2 linked regions of the Homo sapiens genome follow. The protein of the gene in region 2 purifies or fractionates together with the protein of the main gene of each other region. This does not show direct contact. Each region holds a gene or a part of one and is shown on either strand. Other genes may lie near its edges.

Evidence for each region.
Region 1: the proteins of LARS2 (region 2) and SAFB purify together in Homo sapiens (co-immunoprecipitation; one large-scale study listed by IntAct). This does not show direct contact.

The regions. Positions count from the first base shown.
Region 1 is NC_000019.10:5,629,583-5,634,108, reverse strand, and holds part of SAFB (scaffold attachment factor B1), read right to left. Parts: intron 1-4,526. UniProt on the Homo sapiens protein: Binds to scaffold/matrix attachment region (S/MAR) DNA and forms a molecular assembly point to allow the formation of a 'transcriptosomal' complex (consisting of SR proteins and RNA polymerase II) coupling transcription and RNA processing.
Region 2 is NC_000003.12:45,491,894-45,497,445, reverse strand, and holds part of LARS2 (leucine--tRNA ligase, mitochondrial), read right to left. Parts: intron 2,203-5,552; exon of another isoform or gene 1,946-2,202; intron 1,172-1,945; coding exon 1,073-1,171; intron 1-1,072.

The sequences.
Region 1 (4,526 bases), on a different chromosome or scaffold from region 2:
TAAGAATGTTATGTACATTTCAATGTCAATCTGGCAACATGCTTAATTCTTTGATTCACTAATGATATAACTGTCACCTAAAAAATCCTGGAGAAGTGATTAACAATTTTAACCAGCTAGCAAGTTTGCCAAACTGTTCATGAGGGCTTTGTCACCTTTCTTAAGCTGTCTTTGGCTTGCTTCGGATTGCTTTAACAGTACTTAATTTCCTGAGGTACAATCAGCCCAGTAGCTCTCACAAACCAAGTACTGGCCCAGGAGTTGACATCCTAGTTACAGAAGTACATCTAAGTTCCAAGACCCTGGTTTCTTTTTTCTTTTTTTTTTTTTGAGACGGAGTCTCGCTCTGTCGCCCAGGCTGGAGTGCAGTGGCGCAATCTCGGCTCACTGCAAGCTCCACCTCCCGGGTTCACGCCATTCTCCTGCCTCAGCCTCCCGAGTAGCTGGGACTACAGGCGCCCGCCACCACGCCTGCCTAATTTTTTGTATTTTTAGTAGAGATGGGGTTTCACCGTGTTAGCCAGGATGGTCTCGATCTCCCGACCTCATGATCCGCCTGCCTCGGCCTCCCAAAGTGCTGGGATTACAGGCGTGAGCCACCGCGCCTGGCTGCAGACCCTGGTTTCTAATAGCTCTCCTCAAAAGGGCCCAGGGCACCTGGAAGAAATGGCTGATTCCGGGGAAAGGGCAGGAAAAGCATAAGATGAGACTCACGTACCCTGCCATTCCAGAAGGTAAAAAAGTATCCCAAGAATGGCATGAACATGTGGAAATGACAGGGGAGCCTGTCTGACAGGGTTCCCAATGGAACGTTTTGCACATTGTAGTAAATAAGCATAAAGGCTTTCAACCTATGGAATAAAATAATCTAAGTTCACACAGATAAATGAGGGCAAAGGGCAAGCTATTCCTTATGTCAGTAAACCAAGTAATAAACAAACAATAACAAAATTAAAAAATCACCATTTGGCAACTACCAGAATAAATGAATAGACAGGAACTGGTGGTTGCTAAAACTAATGGACGATGAGCAGGATATTTACAAAGTCTCAGAGTATCTTCCCCACAAATGTAACTGTGAAAAGGAAGACAGTAACTTTCCAGTGGAGAAACCTGGCCAATAGCATTTGAAGTCAGCTAACATGGCCAATAATGGCTCAAACTGACAGCATGTGCCTCTGGATAGTATACTCTGATGACAATATAGGCTGGGCGTGGTGGCTCATGTCTGTAATCCCAACTCTTTGGGAGGCCAAGGTGGGAGGATCGCTTGAGCACAGCAATTCAGGGTTGCAGTGACCTACAATTGCACCATTGCACTCTGGCCTGGGTAACAGGGCAAGACCCGGTTTCAAACCAAAACAAAACAAAAAACAGGAATACAACATGTCTGGTGTATTTCTGACAAGCGTATAACTTGATCCTTATTATGGGGCGGGGAGAACCCAAAACAATTCAAATAGAAAAATAAACTACAAAATAAGTGTAAGTGTTCAAGATTAAAGAAAACTAAGGAAACATGACAACCTGATGCAATGCATGACTCTGGACATTTTTTGTCTGAGTTATAGAGAATATTATTGGAACAAACTACTGAATCTAAATGAGGACTAAGACGAGGTGGCAGTATTGTATCAATGTTAATTTCCTGATCTGGACATCTACAGTTAGGTAATATCCTTACTTTACTGCAGTACGTAGGGCAAAGGGGCATATGCGCCTTGCAACTTACCATGCGGTCTAGTAAAAACATACATACAAGGAGAGAAAAGGACAAGGCAAATGTAGTCAGATGGCAATATTTGGGGACTCTGGGTAAAGGGTATATGGGAATTCCTTGCATTATTCTTGCAACTTAAGTATGAAATTGCCAAAATGAACAAAAACTGAACAAAACAAGCCAGCAGCAAAGGATTGGGTAATACTTAACCAAGCAAACAGGCCAACTTTGCATCTCCAGTTACAAAACATTCTCAAACACCATAAAACATCCTATTAATTTGTACTTTGTGATGACACTACAAATAAATTTAGTTTCCTGGTAATTATTTTATTTTTTCGAGACAGAGTCTTGCCCTGTTACCAGGTTGGAGAGCAATCACAGCCCAATCATGGTTCACTGCAACCTCAAATTCCTGGACTCACGTGATCCTCCCACCTCAGTCTCCTGAGTAGCTGGGACTACAGATGCACGCCATCACATCTGACTAATTTTTCTAATTTTTTGGAGAGATGGGGTCTCACTATGTCACCCAGGCTGCTCTCCAACTCCTGGGCTCAAGTCATCCTTCCGCGTCGGTGTCCCAAACTGTTGGGCTTACAGACGAGAGCCATCTCGCACAGCCCCTGATAATTATTTTGAGAGTCTGCTAAGATGGTGAGAGTCACGTCATGTGGAATGTGACTTTTGCTGTATAAGCAGTTTTTAAAAAAAATGTTAAAGTGACAATTCTGTTTTGGCCAAGTGCTGTTTAAAAGGGATGTCATTTTCTCCAAGTCCAAGCAATAGGAGGAGAACTGAGATTACATGAGATATGCTTTCTGGAATTTTAAAGCATTTTGAATTCACACATTACAGCAGTCCCTCTATTTTCAGTTAAAATCTTGATAAAACCCACTGATAAAGTAGTTGAAAATAATTCAAGAAAACTTACCGACCTGCCCTATCAGATATCAAAATGTACTGTAAATTTCTAGAATAAAACTGATTACAAGAAGCAAAACAAAACAACAAATGAGACACAAAAGAGCTAGTATTGCATGGCTCCATTTTACATGAAGTTCTAGAATGGGTAAAACTAATATCTGGTGAAGTAATCACAACAGCGACTTTTATTTTTGCAGGGGCTGGGAGGGGAGACGCACTGGGAGGGGCAGAAGTGATCTTTCTGATGACAAATGTTTCTTTTCTTTTTTTTTGAGACACAGTCTTGCACTGTTGCCCAGGCTGGAGTGCAGCAGCATGATCTCAGCTCACTGCAACCTCCGCCTCCCAGGCTCAAGTGATTCTCCTGCCTCAGTCTCCCGAGTAGCTGGGATTACAGGCATCCGCCACCATGCCCAGCTAATTTTTGTATTTTTAGTAGACGGGGTTTCACCATGTTGGCCAGGCTGGTCTCGAACTCCTGACCTCAGGTGATCTGCCCGCCTCAGCCTCCCAAAGTGCTGGGATTACAGGCATGAGCCACCACGCCCAGCCTAAATGTTTCATGTTTTCATCCCTACCTACCTCACACCACATGCAAAATACATTCTAAATTAATTAAACCTCCAAATGTAAAATGTAAAAATAAAACCATAAATATTATTCTTTCTATATATAACAGAGTTATACATATAGTTTTTTTTTTTTTTGAGACGAAGCTTCACTCGTCGCCCAGGCTGGAGTGCAGTGGCGTGATCTCGGCTCACTGCAACCTCTGCTTCCCGGGTTCAAGCGATTTTCCTGCCTCAGCCTCTCAAGTAGCTAGGATTACAGGCGCTTGCCACCACACCCAGATAATTTTTGTATTTTTAGTAGAGACAGGGTTTCACCATGTTGGCCAGGCTGGTGTTGAACTCCTGACCTCAGGTGATCCACCTGCATCGTGGGATTACGGACGTGTGCCACCGCACCTGGCCTTACAGTCATATTTTTAATAATTTAAAAGCAAAGAAGTCCTTTTAAAGCGTAACATAAAATCTAGAAGCCTAGTGATCAAAATACCACAAGTCGAATCAGATTAAATTGAATGACAGATTAAAACAATAGAAACATTTTATATGAGTCTTTATAACTCAATAAGACAAACAACCCAGCACAGAAATCGGCAAAGGGCATGAAAAGGCCATTCAGACGACACAAATGTCCAATTATCAGAAGAGTATAATCTGTGAAGAAATGCAAACGAAAATCTCACCTGCAGAAAAATGCAGATAAATACAATGAAATACTTTTCTTCTATATAACAGGCAACAAGGTAACAGGCAAACAAGGTAAGTTTGATGTTGAGTTTAGTGAAATAGGCACCGTCACCCATTGTTGGTAGGGTACAACCTGGGACAGCTTTTTGTTTTTGTTTTTGTTTTTGAGACAGCCTCACTCTGTCGCCAAGGCTGGAGTGCAGTGGCACTATCTTGGCTCAATGCAACCTCAGTCTCCCAGGTTCAAGCTATCTTCTTGCCTTAGCCACCTGAGTAGCTTGGATTACAGGCGCCCACCACCACACCTGGCAAATTTCTGTATTTTTAGTAGACGTGGGGTTTTGCCATGTTGGCCAGGCTGATCTTTTGATCCGCCCACCTCAGCCTCCCAAAGTGCTAGGATTACAGGCGTGAGCCACTGAACTTGGCCGGGACAGCTATTTGTAAACTAGCTATGTGAAAATAAAGGGCCATATCCTTGGAGTCTAGAATTCTCCTTTCACTAAGTTATCAAAAATTATATTACTTTGACCACACAAAGGTATTTATCTCTGGTTCGTGCAAACACTGAATGTTGGAAGTACCGAGTGATAATTGGAAATAAAAATCTCCAAACGTCTAGT
Region 2 (5,552 bases):
TGGACAAGAGCAATTAGGCAAGGCCCTTTTAAGCACAATGCTGTGTTTTTTCCTGGGCTCTGGAAGAGTTTCTTTCGGTTCTCATTCTCTCTCTTTATAAGGCTACCTACTGCTCTCTTTTCCTTAATTTGTTTCTTTTTTTGGGGGGGGCGGGGTTCAAATAAACACATGAATACAGCTTAAAAATCAAAATGGTACTGAAAGATTTACAATGAAAAACAGTGGTCTCCAGCCCCAATTCTTTCCTTGCCTCAGGCCTGTCTCTTAGCCACTTTTAATTCTTTTGGTTGTTTCTCCCAGCAATTATTGAAAAAAAAAAACATGTTTATACTCTTTATTGATTTATCAATTTAGGAAATGATCTACTATGTAGTAAGAGGTGAGGCTTCTTAGCGGTCTCACCCTCCCTACCTGCTACCTTCTCTGTAGAGTTACATTATTCTTTTCAGTTAAATAAATAACATTACATCTTTACAATCATACAAATGCAGTTCACTGCAAGGAGGGTATCACAGTAGCATTTCCTTCTTTTTCCGTTTTGTATTTGTGTTGTACTTGGGATTTACTTGGCTGTGAATAATCTAACTTAATGATGTAGCACTCTCCCTTTAAGAGAGCCTGTTCCGAGGTGCACAGTTGACTGACAGCTTCCAGCTGCTGCATCTGTGGACCCACTCTGGTGTGTTCCTGCCAGCCCATGTTGCTCTCCCAGGCTGCTCCCAGGAGAGTAGAGGGAGGGGCTGGAGCAGAGCCATTTTAGCCTGACTGTAAGACTCTAATGGACAAGCTTTGCTTGGGCCTTCCCACTGGCCAGGTCGAGGCTTTCTCAGAGTTGTGCTGTGGGCTGAGGCTCCTCCACCTGATCCTCCTTCCTTTCCCTTCTCCTTTCACACCTGTCACAGCTCCATCGTGGTCTAAGAGCACTCTCTGCCCACTCCTCCTCTTCTCCCCTTTAATCTGCACAGGCATTTCCCCCCAAGAAATCTCTTGCATGTCTAATTCCATCTTGGTCTTTGCTTCTAGGAGGAGCCACACTGACAAATGCTCAAAGACATCAGCAGGGACGTTTTACCTGTGTGGATTATGAGGGTCAGTGTATCTGAAGTAGTACCAAGCAGAATCAACAAAGGTATCCATCGTGTCTGTCTCTCTCTTGGCTGCTCCCTTGCACCTAAGAAAGAAATGAAATTCATCAATTGGTTTCTTTTTAAATTTTAATGCAGTTTTCCATCAGCTTTTGAGAGAGCTATAAGTATGAATTTAAAATGTCATAAGAATAAAGCCACAGGCTGGGTGTGGTGGCTCACGCTTGTAATCCCAGCACTTTGGGAGGCTGAGGTGGGTGGATCACGAGGTCAAAAGATCGAGACCATACTGGCCAACATGGTGAAACCCCATCTCTACTAAAAATACGAACAATTAGCTGGGCGTCGTGGCGTGTGCCTGTAGTCCCAGCTACTTGGGAGGCTGAGGTAGGAGAATGGCTTGAACCCGGGAGGTGGAGGTTGCAGTGAGCCAAGATCGTGCCATTGCACTCCACCCTGGTGACATAGCAAGACTCTGTCTCAAAAAAAAAAAAGAATAAAGCCACATATGAAAAGACAATTCAGGGAAAGCTCTCTTTTTATATTGTATAGTATGCGATGTTTTAAAGAAATTTATTTACAAATAAAAGTTTCAATTTTCAACAATTAAAAGCCTTATTTTCCACTTCTCTGAATTTAACCTGGTAGAAAGCCTCACCATCCAAAAGGACAAGACAGGATTAGGTATCTCTTTTGTGCCTTAACTTCTGTTCCAGGCATGTCAAGATTGCCTTCGCCAATGCCTACTTTATGATGCTTATGAAGCCAATCAATGCATGAAGACAAATGAGAACCAAATATAGGGAGATGTGTGGAAAATCAACTTGGATTTTTCTTCTACTTCTGTTCTGGGGTGACAGGTGCAGAAATCTACCAGGATGACTCGAGGAAGACAAACCAACTTGGAAGCCCCAAAGGCAATGGTTGCTCCAGCTCATGCCAGCCTGTAAGAATCAATTGGGGCATCTCTTCACAACACTGTGACAAAAGATGGCAAGTTGGTAGCTTGAAACTGGCCCTGATGGGAGTATGTACATCACGGAAATTGGCAAATGCTAGAAATCAGGACCCCCCTCCAAAGCTAATTACATATCTACCATGAGACCACTGCCTAAAGGTAGGTTCCTTATGGAAGAGTGAAGAAAGCCCTGGTGTTCAAGACAGAGAATAAAGTGAGATCCTTGATATGTGAAGGGTTGCATAGAAAAAGGAATCCCTGTCCTAGGGACAGACATGTCCAGCAGGACCAAGGTCTCACAAGGGCCCAAGTGTTACACTCATTATTTTTATTTTGAGATGGAGTCTGGCTCTGTCACCTGGGCTGGAGTGCAGTGGCTCGATCTCAGCTCACTGCAACCTCTGCCTCCTAGGCTCAAGCAATTCTCCTGCCTCAGCCTCCTGAGTAACTGGGATTACAGGTGCATGCCATGATGCCCGGCTAATTTTTGTATTTTTAGTAGAGATAGGGTTTCACCATGTTGGCCAGGCTGGTCTCGAACTCTTGACCTCAAGTGATCCGCCTGCCTCAGCCTCCCAAAGTGCTGGGATCACAGGCATGAGCCATCATGCCCAGCTGCTACACTCATTCTTAAGAACATTCCTAGAGTTGTGGGCCTGTGGGACTGAAGGAACCAGGTGCCAAAAGCCACACTACCTAGGAACTCAAAAGAAGGTGCCCTTAGTCAAGCCTAGCACAGGACGGGGATTAGCTGCCTTGGAGACTCCTCAAGGCCTGGATCAGCAGAGAACCAGCACCTTCTGTCTGATGGGTAGGACCAGCTATCAACAGGGCCTTCTGTGGCAGTGGGAAGCCATAGCAGGCTCTCCCTTCTAAGGCATGGATGTGAAGCTCATCGCCCCTCCAAATATTGCGCTTTGGGCAGTGTAAGTCTTTGGGTGTTATTGGAGAATTTGGGGAGAAGGGATGAGGAATCCCAAGAGGAACTGATAAATCTTCTGCTAATTTAGCATGTATGGGCTTGAGTGTATTTTTAATTTAAGAATAAAAGAAGGGTTGTATTTCTGTCTTCCATTTGTGAAGTAGTTCATACCAGCTTTACAAATATTACCCAAGGAAATGGCCAGTCCCCCACATAGTCCTCCAGCTCCCTCGTCAGCTGGTTAAATGCAGTGGCTGAGCAGAGAGCATGGGCGCCCTAGATCTGGCAGGGCTTTGGGACCCCCTGCATTTTAATCAGGGGACCTCCCAATGAGAACAGTGGTGGTCTCTAAGAGTAGAAGCTTTTCAGAGAGAGCCCTCGGGGAACCCAGCTTCCTACCACCCAGGGCTGCTCTAAGAAGCTGATCTCAACAGTGCGCCTCTAAATTGAAGCCAGGTCTTTTTATTTGGAGAGCAATCAACCAGAACACAGACACTACTTTGGGAAATAATTAGAAAATAAAGATTACTTCATCTTCCTCACTTACCTTGTGCAAGTGAGGTCCAAGTGAGGGAGAAAATGCGGGCTCAATTTATAAAAGGAATAACAGCTGGCTAACATTTGCCATGCTGATTTCCTTTTTAATGGTCTTGTTGGACTTGAAGGCAACTAACATGTTTTATTGCTGATACTAAAAACTAGATGATAAGGAAGAAGCTACGTGGCAAGCAGGAGGGATAGAAGTGATAGATAATGGTGATAATGTTATCAGGATTAGCTCCAATAGTAATAATAATAATACTGGGTAGTAGGAACTGAGCCAAGTACCGCAGAAGTATTATCTCATTTAATCCCCAGTAGCCCTGGGGATTATGAGACCGATACTGCTCATATCCCCATTTTTCAGATGAGTAACTAGGATTCAGAGAGGTTAAGAACCTTGTCCAAGGTCTTGTAGTTCAAGGGTAAGGAATCCACATCTGGTGGGCTCTGGTGCCTGTAGTCTGTACCACTGGGCTGCCTTGCTCGGCCACACTGGCTCAGTAGCTCTCAGCCTTGGATGCTCATTAAGATCATCCAGGGGCTGGGCGTGGTGGCACACGCCTGTAATCCCAGCACTTTGGGAGGCCTAGGCGGGCAGAACACGAGGTCAGGAGATGGAGATCATCCTGGCTAACACGGTGAAACCCCATCTCTACTAAAAATACAAAAAATTAGCCGGGCTTGGTGGCGGGCACCTGTAGTCCCAGCTACTCGGGAGGCTGAGGCAGGATAATGGTGTGAACGCGGGAGGTGGAGCTGGCAGTGAGCCGAGATTGCACCACCGCACTCCAGCCTGGGCGACAGAGCGAGACTCCATCTCAAAAAAAAAAAAGATCATCCAGGGAGCCTTGCCCAACACCAAGGCCTAGGTTCTGCCCTCCAGTAATTCTGCAGCCAAGCAGGAAACCTTATCCTCATCAATAAGGCCACAACTGCTGTGCTGTATGCAGGCCACCAACATCTCTGGTAGGGAAGCCCTTTGTCAGCGCTTATCAACAAAGAGGGTGTGCTATTTTCCTCCTGGAGCCAACATTTCTACCCTAAAATGGTCTGGGCCTTCCTATATACCTCCCTCCAAGTTCCACCTTGAATTTCAAAACTGCCTCAGTGAGGACCTGGGAGGATGGCTGGCAAGTCCCTGGCTGGATGGCCATAAAGTTTCTATTTATTGAAGGCCTAGAAGGTATCACTGTGCAGGATCACATGTGTTAATTCTAGTCTTCTGAAAAGCCCTTCAATGGGGTTATTTTTGTTCCTGATGAGGGATTTCACGCTCAGAGAAGGTAAATGACTTTCCCAAGGCTAGACAGTTAGTTAGGAGGCAGAGCCAGGACTTGAATCCATCACTGATTTGACACCCAGCTCAAGACTTCCAATTACACTACGTGGTTACCTAATTGTCAACCTAGTAACTCAGCTCTATACTGGCAGAATACAAAATTATTTTATAATATCCTCATCATGATCTATAAGGCAGAGAAAAATGGCTTCTCCGCAGAAGAAGGAAAATACTGGAACTTGGTATCTGCTATTTGTTTAATTAGCTGATATGGACAGCATCATTAAAAATCATGCTTGAGACATGCCAGTGAATAGACAGAAAAACATAATCCCACTTCCAAAATGAGGAGAAAGGAACCATGGTGCTTCAGCATATTAAAGAATGCAGCCCTGAGCACACTTGCTCTCTTAGCAACTACTCTGCTACTCATGATAAAATCTCCACTGTTGTTACAGTCACTATATTGGAAAACTGCAAGGTGGAGAAGAGAACATTTTCTCCCCTCTCCACGTGGCTCTTTGGAATATCAAAATGGAGGAAAGTGGTTTTTTACAAAGCTGTAAGGAAAATTTAGAGCTTTTCCATCAGTTGGATCAGATGTTTCTGGGATAGATCTGAACTGACACTGCTGCTTCCAACAGCTCAGAGAAGGGAGGATGCCCATTGCAGAGGCAGGGCCACAGATTCCAGACCCTTCTCTTAAAGGGCCCCAAAGACCCACAGTGTTCTTTCCAGCCTCATGGAAGTCAGGGAAAAAGGGAG